2 separate regions of the Homo sapiens genome follow, and region 2 is linked to region 1. The links come from fine-mapping of genetic effects on gene expression. A gene starts in region 1. The other region holds a variant in brackets. All regions are shown on one strand. Distances are between the middles of the regions.

Region 1 (10,794 bases):
ATCGCTTGAACCCAGGAGGTGGAGGTTGCATGAGCAGGAGGCAGAGGTTGCATGAGCAGAGATCGCGTGACTGCACTCCAGCCTGGGTGACAGAGCGAGACTCCATCTCAAAAACTAAATAAATAATAAAAAGCAGCCATGGCTGTGTGCTGGGCAAGGATCCCATTCCAATCCAGTTTCACCAGGAAGAAGCTGATCACAGCATCAGGCTCTCAGCTCACTGCAGCCTCAAACTCCTGGGCTCAAGCCATCCTTCCTCCTCAGCCTCCTGAGTAGCTGGGACTACAGGCACTGCAACCATGTCCTGGTAATTTTTTTTTTTTTTTTTTTTTTTTGAGACGGAGTCTCGCTCTGTCGCCCAGGCTGGAGTGCAGTGGCGGGATCTCGGCTCACTGCAAGCTCCGCCTCCCGGGTTCACGCCATTCTCCTGCCTCAGCCTCCCAAGTAGCTGGGACTACAGGCGCCCGCCACTACGCCCGGCTAATTTTTTGTATTTTTAGTAGAGACAGGGTTTCACCGTTTTAGCCGGGATGGTCTCGATCTCCTAACCTCGTGATCCGCCCGCCTCGGCCTCCCAAAGTGCTGGGATTACAGGCGTGAGCCACCGCGCCCGGCCGTCCCGGTAATTTTTTAAAATTATTTTTTGTAGGCCGGGCACGGTGGCTCATGCCTGTAATCCCAGCACTTTGGGAGGCCGAGGCGGGTGGATCACGAGGTCAGGAGATCGAGACCATCCTAGCCAACATGGTAAAACCCTGTCTCGACTAAAAAAAATTAGCTGGGTGTGGTGGCATGTGCCTGTAATCCCAGCTACTCAGCAGGCTGAGGCATGTGAATTGCTTGAACCGAGGAGGCGGAGGTTGCAGTGAGCCGAGGTTGTGCCACTGCACTCCAGCCTGGTGACAGAGCGAGACTCTATCTAAATATATATATATATATATATATATATAATATTTTGTAGAGACAGGGTCTCGCTACATTGCCCAGGCTGGTCTTGAACTCCTGGGCTCACGCAATCTTCCCTCCTCAGCCTCCCAAAGTGCTGGGATTACAGGAGTGAGCCACTGTGCCCGGCCCCAGAGGAGGGTTATTTATCACCCCCAAGACCTCAACAAGTCACTAGAAGCAAAAGGACAGGCTGTCAGTGCCTGGTTGGCCAGACTGGGGCCACTGGGGGCCAGAGGCCGTTGGAGGCTGGCTGCAAGGGACATTTGCCTTCACCCCCTCCTGCACCCTGAGCCAAAGATTGCCCCCAAGGCCCTCAGGGAGATCTGGCAGATCCCTTGACCAGAGGCCAGCATGGGGCTGAGAGAACTGCGCAGTGGGGAAGGGGGAGGGGGCTGCCTAGAACCACCCCCCTCAACCCAATCTCAGCATTGAGGTGTGGGGTGGCACCAGGGGCAGGGGTGGGTGTGAACCCAGCCCAGGGACTTCCCTTAGGACTTCAGGGCTGGGGACATCTCCAACCTCAGGGCAAGGCCACTTGGCATGGCTCACCTGGGACAGTAAGGGGCTCCTCTCCCCCTCCTCCATCCTTGACGCTGGAACAGAAAGCCCCCAGCACAGGCGCCGGGAGAGGTTCGCTGGCTCCTCTGTGGCTGGGCTGCTGGGCTGGTCCTGACTGCGGCCCTGGGCTAGTCTGTGAACAGTGCAGCCCTGGGCATGGGAATGGGGGAGGTGCGAGCCCTACCCAGATGCCGGAGTCACAGTTGAGTCATGTGAAGAATCACATTTTAGAGCTTAAGGAGGCCTCTGCTTGTGGAGATATATTTCTCCCCAGCCCTGGCTCTGTGGGTCCCCTAAGCTCAGCGCAGGTGTGACTCAGGCAGGCATGTTTGGGTGCCAGCCTTGTGGCTCTCACTGCAGCCCCCCATGCGGACTTCAGCTCTGCAGGGTCAGCAGCCGCTCCATCAGCTCCCAACCAGGGAATCAGACCCTGGTAAATTGGTTCACAACCCCAATCCCAAGAGACCCATGGGCAGCCCCAGCGCCAATCTATCCCCCGGCTTGTTCACTGCACGAATGAAACAGCGTCCCCCCACCAGATCACCTCCTTGTTTTTGTTTTTGAGACTGAGTTTCGCTCTTGTTGCCCAGGCTGGAGTGCAATGGCGCAATCTCGGCTCACTGCAACCTCGCCTCCCGGGACTACAGATGTACGCCACCTTGCCTCACTCATTTTTGAATTTTTTTTGTAGAGACAGGGTTCTGCTGTGCTGCCCAGGCTGGTCTTGAACCCCTGGACTCAAGTGATTCTCCTGCCTTGGCCTTCCAAAGTGCTGGGATTACAGGCTGGAGCCACTGTGCCCGGACTCAGCCACCAACACTCAGCAGTCCAAAGAGGTGGTCTGGGTGGTGCAGCACAGCAGGCAATGTACTGATGGAGCAGGCAGAGGGTTTCAGGCGCGCGTGAGACGCCTGGGTGGGAGCACACCGGGCAAGTTTTAGGAGGAAAGGTCACCTGGCTGTGTGGGGCAAGCGGAGATGGGGGTGGGAGGGAGGTCCATGAGGTGACAGGGCTGGATCAGGTGAGGCCTTGAAGGCCACTCTGAGTCTTCAGATCTTCCTCGGAGAAGTGGGATATGCTGCAGGTGGGAAGTCGGGGCGAGGACCAGAGCTGCAGGCTGAGCTTCTGGGCTCCAGCTTCCCTTCACCTCCCCAAAGGTGACAAACCCAACCTCATGGGCCCTGCAGCAGCTCCACAGCCAGGGTCACGGTCACAGGGACTGTCCACGGCCTCCAACTCAGTCTGTTCTAAGGATGGGTAACCTTTTTTTTTTTGAGACAAGAGTCTCGCTCTGTTGCTGAGGCTGGAATGCAGTGGCACGATTTTGACTCACCGCAACCTCTGCCTCCTGGGTTCAAGCGATGCTCCTGCCTTGGCCTCCTGAGTAACTAGGATTGCAGGCGCCACACCTGACTGATTTTGTATTTTTAGTAGAGATGGGGTTTCACCATGTTGGCCAGTCTGGTCTCGACCTCCTGACCTCAAGTGATCTGCCCGCCTCCTCCTCCCAAAGTGCTGGGATTACAGGCGTGAGCCACCACGCCCGGCCAAAGTCTGGGTAATCTTTTAATGAAACGATCATCATCTACCACTGTTATGGCTGAATTGTGCCCCTTACATTCTTATGATAAAGTTCTAGCCCCCCGGACCTCAGAATGGGACTTGGAGACAGGGCCTTTAAAGGCCATTAGGGGCTGGGCGCGGTAGCTCACACCTGTAATTCCAGCACTTAGGGAGGCCGAGGCAGGTGGATCATGAGGTCAGGAGATTGAGACCAGCCTGGCCAACATGGTGTGACCCTGTCTCTACTAAAAGTACAAAAAATTAGCTGGGCATCGTGGCGCATGCCTGTAATCCCAGCTACATGGGAGGCTGAGGCAGGGGAATTGCTGGGACCCAGGAGGCAGAGGTTGCAGTGAGCCGAGATGGTGCCGCTGCACTCCAGCCTGGTGACAGAGCAAGACTCCATCCCTAAATAAATAAATAAGTGCCATTAGCGTGGGCCCTAATCCAACATCCTTACAAGAAAATTGGGACACACGGTGGGACACATGGAGAGACACGAGGAATGTGTGCACAGAAGAAAAAACATGTGAGGTCTCGGGGAGAAGGTGCCATCTTCGAGCTAAGGAGAGAGGTATAAGAAGAAACCTGGCTGGGTACAGCGGCTTATGCCTGTAATCTAAGCACTTTGGGAGGCTGAGGTGGGTGGATTGATTGAACCTAGTAGTAGTTAGAGACCAGCCTGGGCAACATAGCAAGATCCCATCTCTACTAAAAATACAAAAAGTTAGCCAGGTGTGATTGTGAGCACTTGTGGTCCCAGCTACTGAGGAGGCTGAGGTGGGAGTATCACCTGAGCCTGGGAAGTCGAGGCTACAGTGAGCCACGATTGTGCCACTGCACTCCAGCCTCGGCGATGGGAGTGAGACCCCAGTCTTTTCTTTTTTTTTTTTTTTTGAGACGGAGTCTTGCTCTGTCGCCCAGGCTGGAGCGCAGTGGCGTGATCTCGGCTCACTGCAAGCTCTGCCTCCCGGGTTCACGCCATTCTCCTGCCTCAGCCTCCCGAGTAGCTGGGACTACAGGCACCCGCCACCACGCCCGGCTAATTTTTTTTTTATTTTTAATAGAGACAGGGTTTCACCATATTAGCCAGGATGGTCTCGATCTCCTGACTTCGTGATCCACCTGCCTCGGCCTCTCAAAGTGCTGGGATGACAGGCGTGAGCCACCGCGCTGGGATGACAGGCATGAGCCACCGTGCTGGGATGACAGGCGTGAGCCACCGCGCTGGGATGACAGGCGTGAGCCACCGCGCCCGGCCAAGACCCCAGCCTTAAAAGAAAAAAAAAAGAAGAAAACAAAGGAGAAACCACGTCTACTGACACCTTGATCTGGGATTCTAGCTTCCAGGACTGTTAGGAAGTAATTCCAGGCCGGGCATGGTGGCTCATGCCTATAATCCCAGCACTTTGGGAGGCTGAGGCGGGTGGATCACGAGGTCAGGAGATCGAGACCAGCCTTACCAACATGGTGAAACCCTGTCTCTACTAAAGATATAAAAATTAGCCGGGCGTGGTAGCGCACGCTTGTAATCTCAGCTACTCAGGAGGCTGAGGCAGGAGAATCGCTTGAACCCACGAGGCGGAGGTTGCAGTGAGCTGGGATCGCGCCATTGCACTCCAACCTGGGCGACAGAGGGAGATCCGACTCAAAAAAAAAAAAAAAAAAAAAGAAAAGTAATTCCAAACCACCACCCAGTCTGTGAGAGATTTTGTTATGTTATATTTTCTTATAACTGAGATAATTATTACAGTTAAAGAGATCGGACTTAACTGAACCCATCTTGCTTCTAACCTCCAAGCTGTCCTTGTTCATTCCTGGGTGTAGGCTGAAATAACTTCGGGAGGCGCTTAGTTTATAGTTTAGCTTTGAAACAAAGATGGTAACAGCCCTTTGCAAAACAAACTCCCTTCCTACCTGGGGACAAGACTGCCTTTTCAGGACTAACAAATTAGCCATAAGATTAGAAATTATGGTTTAGGAGTCATGTAGCTGGAGGCTACAAGATTCTAAACCTCCCAAATTGCTTCTCAGGATAACATCACTATTAAAAAACAGATCAGCGCTTGAGATATTTTGCAGACTCTGCACTCCATGGATCAGCTGGCACCACCCAGATTGATAAACTGGCTCATATCTTGTGGCCCCCACCCAGGAACCGACTCAGCACAAGAGGACAGTTTTGACTCCCTATCATTTCACCTCTGACCCAACCAATCAACACTCCCTACTTTCTGACCCCATACCCACCAAATTATCCTTAAAACCGCGGATCCCCAGCCGGGCACGGTGGCTCACGTCTATAGTCCCAGCACTTTGGGGAGGCCCAGGTGGGCGGATCACCTGAGGTCAGGAGTTCAAGACCAGCCTGACCAACATGGAGAAACTCCGTCTCTACGAAAAATACAAAATTAGCCAGGCATGGTAGTGTGCGCCTGTAGTCCCAGCTACCCGGGAGGCTGAGGCAGGAGAATCACTGGAACCCAGGAGGTGAAGGTTGCAGTGAGCCGAGATCGCGCCACTGCACTCCAGTGTGGGTGACAGAGTGAGATTCGGACTCAAAAACAAAAAAAAACAAAAAACAAAAAACTCTGATCCCTGAATTCTCAAGGACACTAATTTTTTTTGAGTAGTAATAAAACCTCAGTAACCTGTACAAGCTGGCTCTGTGTGAATTAAACTCTTTATTGCAATTCCCCTGTCTTGATAAAGTCTAGGCAGTGGGCAGGGACAATATGTTGGGTAGTTACAGTGGCACCCTGAGCAAACTAATACAATTACTAACATAATTTAATCAATTAATGTAATTTAACATAGTTTAAAAAAACTGTCACAGTAATTGTGATGTTGTGAAATATGTATACATTTAGTCTTCCGGTTTCCTGGTATCCAACTCCAAAAATCCTTAGAATCTGTGAAGTGACGTCTTTTTTTTTTTTTTTTGAGATGAAGTCTCACTCTGTCGCCCAGACTGGAGTGCAGTGGCACCAACTCAGTTCATTCTAACCTCCGCCTCTTCGCTTCAAGAGATTCTCCGGCCTCAGACTCCCGAGTAGCTGGGATTACAGGTGCCCGCCACCACGCCCAGTTAATTTTTGTATTTTTAGTAGAGACGGGGTTTCACCACGTTGGTCAGGCTGGTCTTGAACTCCTGACCTCAGGTGATCCACCTGCCTCGGCCTCCCAAAGTGCTGGGATTACAGGCGTGAGCCACCGCGTATGGCCTAATTTTGTATTTTGAGTAGAGACGGGGTTTCACCATTTTGGCCAGGCTGGTCTCGAACTTTTGACCTCAGGTGATCCGTCCACCTTGGCTTCCCAAAATGCTGGGATTACAGGTATGAGCCACCGCGCCCGGCCTGAAATGCAGTTTAAACTCGTTTGTTTTTCTTATGTTAAATTTAAAAAATACTTAAAAAAAAAAACATGAAGGTGTGATCCTGCCTTCCTGAAATTGTTTCTCTACTTACCTGTGCATGGAGAGAAGTTTGGAATGCTGTTTCCCCAATTATAATACGCTATAATACGCAGCAGTAGTTATTTTTGGGTGAGACTTCGGATGCTCGTCTTTGCTTCCTTTTTGGACTTTCCTGTGCCGCTTGGGTTTCCGAGGACGAGCAGAAGTAATCTCAGACGCAACTTTCCAAAATCCCCTCCTCCAGTTGCAGGGATGGCGGGGGCGGGTCAGCGGCGCCGCCCTGCGCATGCGTCGAGCCGTTGGTGGGGCCGGAACCTGGTTTCCCGGCCTCGCGCCCGAGGGGAGCGTATTGAGCGAGGCACCGGGACGTCGGCGGCTGGCGGAGCCGGGCGGGCGAAGCTGGAGCGGCGGTGGCGGCGGCGTAGGGAGGCCGGGGCCGGGGCTGAGGCCGCGGCCGGGTCTGCGAGGCCCTTGGGGCGGCAGGCGGCGGCGGCCCGGGGCTCGAGCCCGGAGGCAGGAGCAGCCGCCATGGCCGAGAGCATCGTGAGTGCGGCGGCCGGGCGGGAGCGGGGACGCCGGGATGAGGCAGCAGATTTGCCGGCCTCGGCCTGTGGGGGAGGCGGGCCTGCCGGCGCCGCGACTCGGCCCCTTTCTCTTCTCTCGCCAGGGCTTTCTCTGTAGTGGCTGGGCCCCTCTCGGGGACTTTCACCCCCCTCGGCTGCTTCCCGTCCGTGTCCCTCCCCAGGGGACTTACGACCCCGGTTCCCCGCCCTGGGCAGGGAAAGGCCGAGCCTTTCTAAGCAGGGAGAATGGACTGTGGCGAAGAGAAACCGCCCTCCTTCCCCACCCGTTTCCCGGCTCCAGGAGACTTCCTGGTCTAATTCCAGGGACTCCCAGCCAGTCCTGCCCCTCTCAGAGCCAGGGACACCTCTTATCCTAATCTCCCTCTGATTCTCTCCTCCTGCTCTCCCGCTTCCCAGCAAGTGCCTTGTCATGAGTCACTAAGGAGAGCAGCTCTGCAGACGGGGACGTTACAGAGCTCCCTCCCCACCAGAAGACCTGGGAAAATGAAAACACAGTAACTTGCCGGCTTTGCTCCTTACTTGGAAGGACAACTTGACAATTCCTCTTTAAAAGGAATGTTGTAAATGATGTTGATTTCACTTTTTACCTGAAATTGAAATTGTCGGCCCGGCGCAGTGGCTCACGCCTGTGATGTCAGCACTTTGGGAGGCCGAGGCGGGTGGATCACCTGGGGTCAGGAGTTCGAGACCATCCTGGCCAACATGGCAAAATCTTGTCTCTACTAAAAATACAAAAAATTAGCCGGGCGTCATGGCGCACTGTAATCCCAGATACTTGGGAGGCTGAGGCAGGAGAATTGCTTGAACGCGGGAGGTGGAGGTTACAGTGAGCTGAGATCCCTCCATGGCACTCCAGCCTGGGCTATAGAGCGAGACTGCGTCTCAAAAAAAAAAAAAAAATTGTCACACACTCCTCCTTAACGTAAAAAATATCAGTGACAAATCAGAAAACCAGTCCCTCGTTAAGTTGTGAGAAGTTTCTTCCCAAAAGTAAATGTGATGGGAAAAAAACTAACTGACCATTGGACAGGAGCATTTTGGTTAATATTAAGGAAGATTTGGGATTTCTGGGGGAAGCTTAGCAGTATTGGGTGAAGAGTAATGTTCATACTGTAGCATTGTGACAGTCTCTGCAGTTTTGCCAGGTGTTGTCTAGAATAGGTCTCCAGGCCCGGCGCGGTGACTCACACCTGTAATCCCAGCACTTTGGGAAGCCCAGGTGGGTGGATCACCTGAGGTCAGGAGTTCAAGACCAGCCTGGACAACATAGTGAGCCTAGGTGGCGTCACTGGACTCCACCCTGGGCGACAGAATGAGACTGTCTCACACACACAAACAAATGGGTCTCCAGGAGAACCTAGCACTTATTTGCAAGGCTGTTCTCTGGTGGTTCCATCATCTCTCCAGTCAGGGGCCCTCTTGGTGCCTCCATGTTTCCCAACCTGGAGATGAGTGGAATGAATATATGGCCCAGGAGAAACTTAGGAAACGTCGACTCCTTTTTTTTTTTTTTTTTTAACCTTATTTTATTTTTTTGAGATGGAGTCTCACTCTGTCGCCCAGGCTGGAGTTCAGTGGTGCGATCTCTGCTTACTGCAACCTCCGCCTCTCGGGTTCAAGAAATTCTCCTGCCTCAGCCGAGTAGCTGGGGTTGCAGGTGCTCGCCAACACGCATGGCTGATGTCTTTTTTATTTTTAGTGGTGATGGGGTTTCACCGTGTTGGCCAGGTTGATCTCGAACTTCTGACCTCGTGATCCGCCCGCCTTGGCATACCAAAATGCTGGGATTACAGGCATAAGCCACCGCGCCTGGCCTTTAAATCTTTTTAATTAAAAACATTTTTTTATAGAGATGAGGTCTCTACTATGTTGTACAGGCTGGTCTCTGAGCTCGAGGGATCCTCCTACCTTGGGGTCCCAAAATTGCTAGGATTACAGTCCTGAGCTACCATGCCCGGCCAAGAAACCTTTGACTCCTTTGAAAAATAAAATGTGGCCATGCAGTGGCTCACGCCTGTAATCCCAGCACTTTGGGAGGCCGAGGTGGGCGGATCACGAGGTCAGGAGTTCAAGACTGGCCTGACCAACATGGTGAAACCCTGTCTCTACTAAAAATAAAAAATTAGCCGGGTGTGGTGGCATGCACCTGTTATCCCAGCTACTCTGGAGGTTGAGGGAGGGGAATCGCTCAAACCCGGGAGGTGGAGGTTGCAGTGAGCCCAGATTGCGCCACTGCACTCCAGCCTGGGCGACAGAGCAAGACTGTCTCAAAAAAAAAAAAAAAAGTGTTAATCATTGGTGACTTTGCCTAGAAATAGGTTAGGAATTAGCACTGAAACCTTCTTTCAAACTACCTTTGTACTTTTAACTGAGTTAAAATAACCATTGACAAGTGAAAAGTGTTTCAGACAAGGCCATTTTTTTTTTCCCACTAGTGTATAAGGCTAGGCTCTCATTGACAGCATTGGATCTCGTTGAATGTCTCAGATTGTGAGGAATTAAAACACTCTTCTTTTGAAATTGATTTAAAAAGTTATTTTGAATTTAAGAAAGAGATCTTTTGAAAAGTTTCTGGGCTGGGCATGGTGGCTCACACCTGTAATCCCAGCACTTTGAGAGGCCGAGGCAGGTGAATAATGAGGTCAGGAGTTGAGACCAGCCTGGCCGACATGGTGAAACCACGTCTTTACTAAAAATACAAAAATTAGGGCGTGGTGGCTCACGTTTGTAATCCTAGCACTTTGGAAGGCCGAGGCAGGTGGATTGCCTGAGCTCAGGAGTTTGAGACCAGCCTGGGCAACACGGTGAAACCCCACGTCTACTAAAAAAAAAAAATACAAAAAATTAACCGGGCGTGGTGGCGTGCACCTGTAGTCCCAGCCACTCAGGAGGCTGAGGCAGAAAAGTTAGAACCCGGGAGGCGGAGATTGCAGTGAGCCGAGATCGCACCACTGCACTCCAGCCTGGGTGACAGAGTGAGACTCTTAAAAAAAAAAAAAAAATTAGCTGGGCGCGGTGGCGGGCGCCTATAATCCCAGCTACTTGGGAGGCTTGAGGCAAGAGAATTGCTTGAACTCGGCAGGCAAAGGTTGCAGTGAACCGAGGTCGCGCCATCGCACTCCCACTCTGGGTGACAGAGCAAGACTCTGTCTTGGGGGGAGAAAAGAGTTTCTGTGGATTTAACTGTATCTCACCAGTTCTTCAACTTCCCCAAGAAGCGTTCTAGTCTTATTTTCTTATAAATAGGGAAACTTAAGTTACCAAGAGGCTGTGTGTTCATGTTGTCAGGTCTGTCTCTTCCTGTGTATTTCATTTTGTAGTCTGTGTCAGAGGCTAGGCCAGAACTTTCCATCGTACAAATTATGTTTGTCTCTTGTTAAATACTGGAGTTGGCCTTGGAAACCTGGACTCCCATCTTCTGTGGTAGAGGATCAAGTAGGATGACTTCTTCACCTTAGAATTCTGCAGCCTGAACCATTTAGCTCTGTAAAGAATGGCGGTAACATGCTCTTGTTCCAGAGTCATCGTTTGAAGGAACATTCACATGTTCCCCTTCATTAGAACAGAGCTTTCCTTTTTAAGATAGCTAAGTGTTGGCAGACAGATTTTAGAAACAAATAAGTGGAAGTATTTACCTAATGCTATATATTGTGAAAACGTTTTTCTGGGGTATTGAATCTAGAATGAAGTATACTAGACGTTAGAAGTATAAAGAATTGTATT
Region 2 (10,776 bases), 80 kb after region 1:
TTTTATTTGTTTGTTTTTTAAAAATAATTTTAACTTATTTTAGATTCACAGGGTACATGTGCAGGTTTGTCACCTGGGTATATTGCCTGATGCTGAGGTTGGGGTATGATTGATCACATCACCCAGGTACTACACATAGTACCTAATAGTTTTTCAGCCCGCCCTGCTCTTTGTGTGTGTGTGTGTGTGTGTGTGTGTGTGTGTGTTTTGAGCTGGAGCCTCACCCTGTCTCCCAGGCTGGAGTGCAGTGGCGCAATCTTAGCTCACTGCAAACTCTGCCTCCTGGGTTGAAGCAATTCCCCTCCCTCAGCCTCCCGAGTAGCTGGGATTACAGATGTGTACCACCACACCTGGCGTTGCCATCTTTATGTACGTGAGTACCCATGTTTAGCTCCCACTTATAAATGAAAACATGTAGTATTTGGTTTGCTGTTCCTGCATTAGTTTGCTTAGAATAATGGCCTTCAACTGCATCCATGTTGCTGCAAAGGACATGATTTCATTCCTTTTTATGGCTGCAAAATTTTTTAATATTTTTGTATCAATGAGGTCTCACTGTGTTGCCCAGACTGGTCTCAAACTTTGGCCTCAAGCATTCCTTGCACCTCAGCCTCACAAAGTCCTGAGATTATACCTGGGAGCCACTGCACCCAGCCCTTTGATGCAGTTCTAACAATGACACCAGTCTTTTTTTTTTTTTTCTTTTTTGTTTCCCTTTTAGAGACAGGGTTTCACTCTGTTGCCTAGGCTGGAGTGCAGTGGAGTGATCATAGCTCACTACAGCCTTCAATTCCTGAGCTCAAGCGATCCTCCTGCATCAGCTTTCGGAGTACCTAGGAGTATAAACATGAGCCACTACACCCAACTAATGTTTTTGGTTGGTGTTTTTTTTTTTTCTTTAAGAGATAGGGTTGGCCGGGCCCGGTGGCTGGCTCACACCTGTAATCCCAGCACTTTGGGAGGCTGAGGCAGGTGGATCACAACGTCAAGGGATTGAGACCATCCTGGCCAACATGGTGAAACCCCATTTCTGTTAAAACTACAAAAATTAGCTGGGCATGGTGGCGAGCGCCTGTAATCCCAGCTACTCAGGAGGCTGAGGCAGGAGAATCACTTGACCCAGGAAGCGTAGGTTGTAGTGAGCTGAGATCGTGCCACTGTACTCCAGCCTGGGCGACAGAGCAAGACTCTGTCTCAAAAAAAAAAAAAAGATGTGGTCTTGCCATGTTGCCCAGGCTGGTCTCAAACTCCTAGGCTCAAGTGATCTTCCTGCCTTGGTTCCCAAAGTGCTGAGATTACAGCTGTGAGCCACTGCACCTGACCTTTTTTTTTTCCCCCCTCCTTTTTTTTTTGAGACAGGTTCTCACTCTGTCACCCAGGCTGAAGTGCAGTGGCATTTGAGGTCAGTCTCACCTTGACCTCCCCAGGCTCAAACAATCCTCCCGCCTCAGCCTCCTGAGCAGCTGGGACTACAAGCATGTGCCACCATCCCTGGCTGATTTTTTAAATTTGTTGTAGAGATGAGGTCTCACTATGTTGCCCAGGCTGGTCTTGAACTCTTGGGCCCAAGCGATCCTCCCGCCTCAGTGCTGAGATTGCAGTGGTAAGCCACCATGTCCAGCCAACTCTTTAATAATAGGCAGTTCTGACTGGTGTAAGTTCTGACTGGTATCTCACTGTGGTTTTAATTTGCATCTCTGATGATTAGTGATGTTGGGCATTTTTTCATGGGTTTTTTGTTTGTTTGTTTTGAGACAAAGTCTTGTTCTGTTGCCCAGGCTGGAGTGCAGTAGTGTGATCTCAGCTCACTGCAGCCTCCACCTCCCGGGTTCAAGCCATTGTCCAGCCTCTGCCTCCTAAGTAGCTGGAATTACAGGTGGCTGCCACCACACCCAGCTAATTTTTTTAGTTTTAGTAGAGACAGGGTTTCTCCATGTTGGCCAGGCTGGTCTCAAACTCCTGACCTCAAGTGATCCACCCACCTCGGCTTCCCAAAGTGCTGGGATTATAGGTGTGAGCCACCGCGCCCGGCCCTCATGGGTTGTTTTGTTTTGTTTTGAGACGGAATCTCACCCTGTCACCCAGGCTGCAGTGCAATCTCATGATCTCCACTTACTGCAACCTCCACGTCCTGGGTTCAAGTGATACTCCTGCCTCAGCCTCCCGAGTAGCTGGGACTACAGGCGTGCACCCACGCCTGGCTAATTTTTATATTTTTAGTAGAGATGGGGTTTCACCATGTTGGTCAGGCTGGTCTGGAACTCCTGACCTCAGGTGATCCACCTGCCTCGGTCTCCCAAAGTGCTGGGATTACAGACGTGTATACACAAGACACAAAGATCAGCTCAGGATGGGTCATAGGCCTAATGGTAAAAGGTAAAACTATGAAGCAGGCTGGGCATGATGTCTCATAGCTATAATCCTAACACTCTAGGAGGCCAAAGCTGGAGGACACTGTAGCCCAGAAGTGTGAGACCAGCCCACACAGCATAGTGAAGCCCCGTCTGTACAAAAAAACAATATTAAAAAAAAAAGAATTAGCTGGGCATGGTGAGTGGTCCACGCCTATAATCCCAGCTTCTGGGGAGGCTGAAATGGGAGGATCCCATGAGTCAGGAGGTCGAGGTCACAGTGAGCCATGATTATACCACTCCAGCCTGAATGACAGAGCAATACCCTGTCTTAAAAAAATAAAAACTGTAAAACAGTTATTAAGTTGAATCTCTTCAGGGCCTTGGGGTACGCAAAGATTCTTTTAGGCAGGATGCAGGACCTTGGGGTAGAACACAGAAAAACACTGGCATAAAAATAGGTAAATTGATAAATAAATTTATCTAAACAAAACACTTGTGCTCATCACAGGGCACTGTTAGAAACATGAAAAGGCACCAATGGGGGACGCAGTATTAGCAGTACATACACACAACATGACTTCTATCTGAAACTTAAAAATAACTCTGCCTGTTGTTAATCAAACAGAAAGCAGAAGAAGAAGCTGGGCGGAGGGTGAAACGTTTCACAAAAGGAAATGCAGGTCGGGCATGGTAGCTCACGCCTGTAATCCCAGCACTTTGGGAGGCCGAGGCGGTGGATCATTTGAGGTCAGGAGTTCGAGACAGCCAGGCCAACATGGTGAAAACCCATCTCTACTAAAAATAAAAAAAATTAGCCAGGTGTGGTGGCACGTGCCTGTAATCCTAGCTACTTGGGAGGCTGAGGTAGGAGAATCGCTTGAACCCAGGAGGCAGAGGTTGCAGCGAGCCGAGATTGCGCCATTGCACTCCAGCCTCGGCAACAACAAAAAAAAGGAGATGCAGGAACAGTCACTATCATTAGTCATCAGGGAAATGCAAATTAAAACATGAGAAGCCGTTACACATTCATCAGTGTGGCTGAAATGAAAAAAACGCGACAATGTCAAGTGTGAGTGAAGATGTGAAGCAGCTGGGACTCTCGTACCTTGCGAGTGGGAGGCAAAACCGTGCCACCCTCGCGAGAACTGTGTCTCAGGGTCTTAGAAAGTTCAGCACACAATTCATTACCCTGTGGGCCGGCAGATTCATTCCTAGGTAGGTTTTTTGTTGTTGTTGTTTGTTTGTTTGTTTGTTTTGAGATCTCGGCTTACTGCAACCTCGGTTCACTGCAACCTCCGCCTCCCAGGTTCACGCCATTCTCCTTCCTCAGCCTTCCTAGTAGCTGGGATTACAGGTGCGCACCACCACCCCCAGGTAATTTTTGCATTTTTAGTAGAGACGGGGTTTCACCATGTTAGCCAGGATGGTCTCCATCTCTTGAATTTGTGATCTGCCCACCTCAGCCTCCCAAAGTGCTGGGATTACAGGCATGAGCCACCGCGCCCGGCCTGTTGTTTGTTTTTGAGATGGAGTCTCGCTGTGTCGCCCAGGCTGGAGTGAAGAGGCAGGGTCTCGGCTCACTGCAGGCTTCCCCTCCCGGGTTCATGGGATTCTCCTTCCTCAGCCTCCTGAGTAGCCGGAACGGCAGGTGTCTACCACCACGCCTGGCTAATTATTTTTAGTAGAGACCGGGTTTCGCCATGTTGGCCAGGCTGGTCTCAAACTCCTGACTTCAAGTGATCCACCCGCCTCGGCCTCCCAAAGTGCTGGGATTACAGGCGTGACCCACTGCACCCAGCCTCACTCTTTGTTTTTATCCAAGAGAAATAAAAACACAGGTCCACAAAGAAATTGTAGAAGAATGATCCTGGCAACTTTGTTCATATTAGCTCAAAACTGGAGGCTGGGCATGGTGGCTCATACCTATAATCCCAGCACTTTGGGAGGCCAAGGTGGGTGGATCACCTGAGGTCAGGAGTTCGAGACCAGCCTGGCCAACATGGTGAAACCCTAGTTCTACCAAAAAATAGATAAAATTAGCCAGGCATTGTGGTTCATGCCTGTAATCCCAGCTACTTGGGAGGCTGAGGCAGGAAAACCGCTTGAACCCGGGAGGTGGAGGTTGCAGTGAGCCGAGATCGTGCCACTGCACTCCAGCCTGGGTGACAGAGCAAGACCCTACCTCAGAAAAAAAAAAAAAAAAAAAAAGCTGGAAACAACCCAAATGCACATCCCCCGGGGAGTTACGTTATTCACAAGGAGAAGCACCCTCTGCAACAAAAAGGAACCAGCAAGCACAGGCTCCCTGTTACTCCCTGTGGTGCAGGAGGCATTTTTCTGAGGGCATTAAGCACTTCAAAGTGTGCCTGTGGTGGGAGTGCTGTGTGGGCAGGACCAGCACTGGGTGGGATGTTGGGGGCGGGGAGCTCTCAGCTGCCTGCCCCTGCCCCCATGCCCACACTCTGGCAGTCTCTGGTGGGCCAGAAATGATGAGTGCTCATTTCTCTTCCACCCTGCAGGCACAGTTGGCGGGCAGCTCCCAGGTCTCCATGAGTACGGCGCCGTCGGGGGCTCCACACACACGGCCACTGCAGCCATGTGGGCCTGTCAGCACTGCACGTTCATGAACCAGCCAGGCACAGGCCACTGCGAGATGTGCAGCCTCCCCAGGACCTAGGGCGCCTGCCCTCTGCTGGCTAGGACCGGGCCCAGCCCAGCCCTTCCTGAAGCCAGAAGCGTTGCTGAGTGTGTTCCCTGTAACTGCCCCATAGTGGGCAGCCCTGGAGGAACAAGGGGCTGGCTGTCCTGGGCTCCCTGACCCACTGAAGCTTCTCAGCACGTTCCTCCCTGGAGAGCGGGCGCCACGGCTGGTATTCTGCAGGCTGAATGCAGTCTCCAGACTGGAAACGCAGAGCGGCTCCTCACGCCTAATCCTGTTGACAAGTCCCCCGCCGTGTTGGAAAGACCTCTCGCCTCTACGTGGCACCTGGAATTGGGGCGCACAGGGAGGGGCCGATGCTGCCACCACCCAGCCTTCTCTTTATTTTCAGTGCTTTTTGTTTGGCCTCCCTGCCCCCATGTTTTTCTGGCTGGGAGCTCTTGGTTACCCCCTTGTCTGACTGCTTGGTGGCAGGCACCCTGCCTGTGAGGGCCACTTTCCTCTTCTAGTAGCTGTTGTCTGGTGGGGACGCAGTGGCCCTGGACACGGCTCCCCTCTGCAGGTCTGCAGGTCGGTTTGCTGCCTGCCCTCCTCCTCTCACCCGATGTCCAGGTGGGATTTTAAAGTCTGCATTGGTTATAA[T/C]AACAGTTATCAGTAATTCCTGCCCAGAAGACTTTTATTTATTTTTTTTTAAGATAAAAACTGCACAAAAGGGGAGTGAGAGAGACTAGTTTCCACATCCTTCCCTCCTTTAGTGAAGCCCCCGAGGTTGTGTCCAGGGTGATGAGTGTGGACGGGGGCACCAGTCAGTTCTCCCTTGAAGTAAACCTCAGTGCCTGAGACTTTTCTACCAAGCCACACAGCTGCAGCAACTGCAGATACTGCGGGCTGAGCAGGAGCAGTGGTGGCGCCTGCCCTGAGGCTGCCCTGCGATGGCCTGGGTGGGAGAGCTGGGTCACCGGTGCCGATGCTCTGGCCCTCCCCAATACGCTGCTTCGTCCCACTGCACCGCCTGGCTGAGGGCGTTAGGGGCTGTGCCTCTTGTGAGGGCCATTTGGGACCTCCCTGGGGCACTGCACAATTGATAGTGTACCAATAGAGGGAGACTGGGCGATCTGGAACAGCACGTGGTGGGGTCCTGCTTGTGTGCTCTGCGTTCCTCTGTGGCGTGGCCAGGCCGGGGCATGGCTCTTACCCGGGGAGTGGTGGGCATCTCGATGCTTCTTTGCCTTAATGATGGCCACATCTGGGCTGCTCTGCACCCACGGGAGAGGCTGGCCCAGCTGCAGACTGCTTAGGGACTTCTGTGTCCATCCTGGGGGGTAAGCCCACGTGACCCACATTCTTGGCACTATGAACAGAGAACATTTGCCTGTTGGCTTCTGAAGTGGTCAGGGCCATGGCTGACACCTCCAGGTCCGCCTGGCATGGGACACCAAGTGGAAGGCCCAAGCAGCTCATCTGCTCTTGGGACCAGGGGCCAGTTGGGTTGGGTCTGGTCACGGCAGAGCTATTGTGGAGGGTCAGGAAGGGTGGAGAGGAGCTGGGTTGAAGCGGACTGCTGCGGATGCAACTCCCAGCTTGCCCACCGCGGGCTGTCTGCTCTCCCTCCTAGCAGCTGTCACACTGAAGTTTTGTCCTCTGCTGTCTCCTCTGGTCCTGAGATGAGCTGTGAGCCTAGGTGGCCAAGGCTTCCTGCATTGCTTCCCTGTGAGTCCAAGGCCTTCCCCCACCACTGGGCAGAGGCTGGACAGCACGGACTTCTAGAGAGAGCCGCGTTGCCAGTTCCTCTCCCACTCGCTCGTCCTTATCCACCACGCTATTATAGTTTCCGTTGTCCTCCACCAGCATTTCCCTTACTCTGAAGTTCCGGCATTCACATCATTCATGTTTTCTTTTGTCTTTTAGCTAAAGGAAAAGCATTGGCGATTTGTCTGATTCTGGTTTTGAGTTACTCTTTGTTCAGTAATGCACTTTATTTTATTGTCCAAAGAGAGTCAGAGCTAAGCATACAGGCTTGGGGGTGAGCCCTGCTGTGAGAGTTCAGGCCCTGGGAGGCTCAGCCACCTCCTCTTGTGGGAAGGAGGTCTCAGCCCCACCTCGCATCTTCACCTGCCCTTGGTGTGGACACACCCTCTCATGCTACCAGCACCATAATCCAGTGGGGGTGACTGGGTGCACACCTGCCCAGGTGAACACAGCGGCTGCCAGTCTCCTGGTCCCGAGAGGAGGTGGGGCCTGGCCCTGGCTCCCTCCAACCAGCTGCTCCTGGGACACAGGTGCTCCTGCTTCGGCTCTGTTTCGGCTCACAGGTGTGCATCACTGGGCTTGGATTTGCATTACATTGACCCCAGCCCTGCAGTGGAACCTAATAAAAGCGCCTGAAGCAACTGCCTGGTCCTGGTGTGTCCTTCCTGCGCACTCAACTGTTGTCTGGCATCTGCTCAGTGTGGGGGGATTTGATAACTTGTCTCCAAGATATCACTGTTTTACGTGTATGTGCATGGTCCATTTAAAGGTGGGGATCCCACTTCCCCAGCCGATCCCTCCCAACCTTGGCTCCTCGATAAGTTTCTTAAAGTGCTAACATCTGGGGGAGGAGGAGAGTGCGTCAGTGTTTGACGGCCCCGCCGCCCTTGGGTGCCTCTTCTGCCTCTGCCGCACCTGTCAGCCCTGCGACTGCCCCACAGTCACTGCTTTGTGGACAGGTACATGTGGTCAAACAGCAGGTGAAGGACAAAGCCCAGGAAGGCCAGACTGCACAGGTGCAGCAAGGAGTGAGGCCTGGGGGTGACACACTGCCTGTGTTCCTGCTTGAGCTGTCTTTCCCTGTGACAACAGAAAGCGTCTAGAACAAGTGCTCTCTGAGCCTCAGATAGGAGCCTGGCAGTCACTGTTCAGCACCACTTTGTCCTTTGGTCAGTGACTCATAGCTGACTTGAGCAGTTACTAAAAAAAACTCCAACTAATTTCTGAAGGAGGGCCCTGGGGTGAAGCAGGCCACAGGACAGTGACCAAGGTGTCCTGGCTTCTGGACTCCAGGAGCGAGAGGGTGAGTCCCCCAGCACCCGGACTCCAATCCTGCACCTTCAACACAGTGCAGTTCACTCGATTTACCCACAGCTCCTGGGATCGCTTGAGCCCAGGAGGTTGAGGCTGCAGCCAGCTGTGATCGCAAGTCCAGCCTGGGCCACGGGGTGAGACCCTGTCTGAAAAAAAATTTAAAAAGCTGAGGTGAGGAGGCTCGGGGAGGTTGTATCAGAGAAAGCAGCAGCCTGGGCCATGCAGTGAGCCAGTACCTGATCATGGCCGTCTTATGTGAGAGCCAGTGAAGATCCTTGGCATCCTCTTTGGTTCGATGTAAAGATAAAAGCCGGGCGCAGTGGCTCACACCTGTAATCCCAGCACTCTGGGAGGCCGAGGCAGGTGGATCACCTGAGGTCAGAAGTTCTGGCCAACCCGGTGAAACCCTGTCTCTACTAAAAATACAAAAACTAGATGGGCCTGGTGGTGCACACTTGTAATCTCAGCTACTTGGGAGGCCCAGGCTGGAGGATCACTTGAACCCCGGGGGCAGAGGTTGCAGTGAGCTGAGACTGTGCCACTGCACACTCCAGCCTGGGCAACAGAGCAAGACTGTCTCAAACAAAAAAAACAAAAAAACTGGGTGTGGCAGCTCACACCTACAATCCCACCACTTTGGGGAGGCCAAGGCTGGTGGATCACTTGAGGTCAGGAATTCAAGACTAGCCTGGTCAACATGGTGAAACCCAATCTCCACTAAAAAATAGAAAAAATTAGCCAGTGTAGTGATGTGTGTGCGCCTGTAATCCCAGCTACTTGGGAGGCCAAGGTAGGAGAACTGCTTGAACCTAGGAGGCAGAGGTTGCAGTGAGCCGAGTTTATGCCACTGCACTCCAACCTGAACAGTGTAAGACTCTGTCTCAAAAAATAGGCCAGGCGTGGTGGCTCATGCCTGTAATCCCAGCACTTTGGAAGGCCGAGGCAGGCGGATCAAGAGGGCAGGAGATGGAGACCATCCTGGCTAACACAATGAAACCCCGTCTCTACTAAAAATACAAAAAAATTAACCGTGCATGGTGGCAGGTGCCTGTAATACCAGCTACTCGGGAGGCTGAGGCAGGAGAATGGCGTGAACCTGGGAGGCAGAGCTTGCAGTGAGCCGAGATGGCACCACTGCACTCCATCCAGCCTGGGCGACAGAGTGAGACTCCATCTCAAAAAAAAAAAAAGACTGTCTCAAAAAATTAAAAAAAAATTTTTTTTAATCTGTCATCCAGGCTGGAGTGCAGTGGCGTGATCTCGGCTCACTGCAAGCTCGCCTCCCGGGTTCACACCATCCTCCTGCCTCAGCCTCCCGAGTAGCTGGGACTACAGGCGCCGCCACTATGCCCAGCTAATTTTTTTGTATTTTTAGTAGAGACGGGGTTTCACTGTGTTAGCTAGGATGGTCTCGATCTCCTGACCTTGTGATCCTGCCCGCCTCGGCCTCCCAAAGTGCTGGGATTACAGGCATGAGCCACCGTGCCTGGCCAAAATTAAAAAATTTAAAACAGTTCTGGATGCCACTCCCCCATTAAATCAAGCAAATTGTACTGCTTAGAAATAGAACTCAGGCCCGGGGTTCGAGACCAACGTGGCCAACATGGCGAAACCCTGTCTCTATTAAAAAAGACAAAAAATTAGCCTGGCGTGGTAGTGTGCACCTATAGTCCAGCTTTTCGGGAGGCTGAGGCAGGAGGTTGGCTTGAGCCTGGGGTGTTGAGGCTGCAGTGAGCCGAGACTGTGCCACTACACTCTAGCCTGGGAGACACAGTGAGAACCTGTGTGTGTCAAAAAAAAAAAAAGGGAGAAGTCGGGTTCCTGGGTCCCTGCCTCACCTTCCTGCTGTGTTCTCCTTATTGGGCTGTGCTGCTCTGAGGAGAGGTCCCTCAAGGCCCAGCCCTCCTCGCCCTCAACACAGCCTGAAGCTTCATGGTTTTTCTCCCCTCAGTCTGACCTAAATTGACTCCTTCATATACTTCGTGCTTAGGGAGATGATAACACCTCCAAGTTGGGCATAGAAACGCAGTGTCCAGCGGTCTGCGCTGCTGTCTCGAAGGCTTCCGCTAGGAGTGTGTGCATCTTCCACACCCACGGACAGAGAGGCTGCCTCAGCCCTCATCACTCTTCGCCAAGTACAGGTGGGGCACGGCACAGCCCAGCAGCTGATGGAGAGCCGGCCTTCAGCCCTTCGCTTGTGTCTAACTCACCCCCTTTCCCCTGGGATCCATGCTTAAGGTCCCCCACATGACTACTGATCATAAATCTTGTTGCAGATAGGAGCTGGGCTTGGCGTGGGGCCAAAAGCCTGCCAGCCCCCGGAGCAGAGTGGGGTGGGCAGCGGAGTAAACCGCGGGGTGAGGCTGCTGGTTTGGCGGGCCTTCTCCCACGTCCGTTTCCTCCTCCACGTGATCGTGATCATTTCCTCTAGGACAGTCTTGGCATGTTACCATCCGTATGGAAGAGATGGCCTGGGAGGACTGGATGGGGTTGGTGTGTGTGAGCGAGTGACTCACAAGGCTTCAGAGGGTTAAAACTAGCAGTCAGAAGACCTGCGGATTCCTGTGGGGAAATTCGGTCAGAAGACCAGCGGAGGATCCCTGTGGGGAAATTCACAACGATGCGGCATCTGACTTCCTGACTCTGAAGGCCAAATGAGATGCACCTGGCCCTCCTCTCCCCACTCCCCAGCATCAAAGA

What was found.
Region 2: its variant is fine-mapped to the expression of NPLOC4 in whole blood (INTERVAL, PIP above 0.99). The same link has a PIP of 0.9 or more in fibroblasts.

The regions. Positions count from the first base shown.
Region 1 is chr17:81,633,152-81,643,945 of GRCh38, reverse strand. NPLOC4 (NPL4 homolog, ubiquitin recognition factor) reads left to right here and starts at 6,834. Exons shown (of 17, transcript NM_017921.4): 1 at 6,834-7,030. The coding sequence starts at 7,016. TSPAN10 (tetraspanin 10) reads right to left here and starts at 6,750. Exons shown (of 4, transcript NM_001290212.2): 1 at 6,540-6,750; 2 at 1,498-1,639. The coding sequence starts at 1,533. RefSeq lists a silencer at 6,895-7,104.
Region 2 is chr17:81,553,514-81,564,289 of GRCh38, reverse strand. It overlaps NPLOC4 (NPL4 homolog, ubiquitin recognition factor), which reads left to right. Exons shown (of 17, transcript NM_017921.4): 17 at 4,874-7,403. The coding sequence ends at 5,031. LOC124904085 (a long non-coding RNA gene) reads right to left here. Exons shown (of 2, transcript XR_007065947.1): 2 at 6,971-10,776. Among named protein-coding and RNA genes, the nearest start is that of FAAP100, 6.5 kb to the right of the region's middle. RefSeq lists enhancers at 3,202-3,301, 4,578-5,077, 5,078-5,579, 10,306-10,776. The variant T/C (reference allele first, on the strand shown) is at 5,656.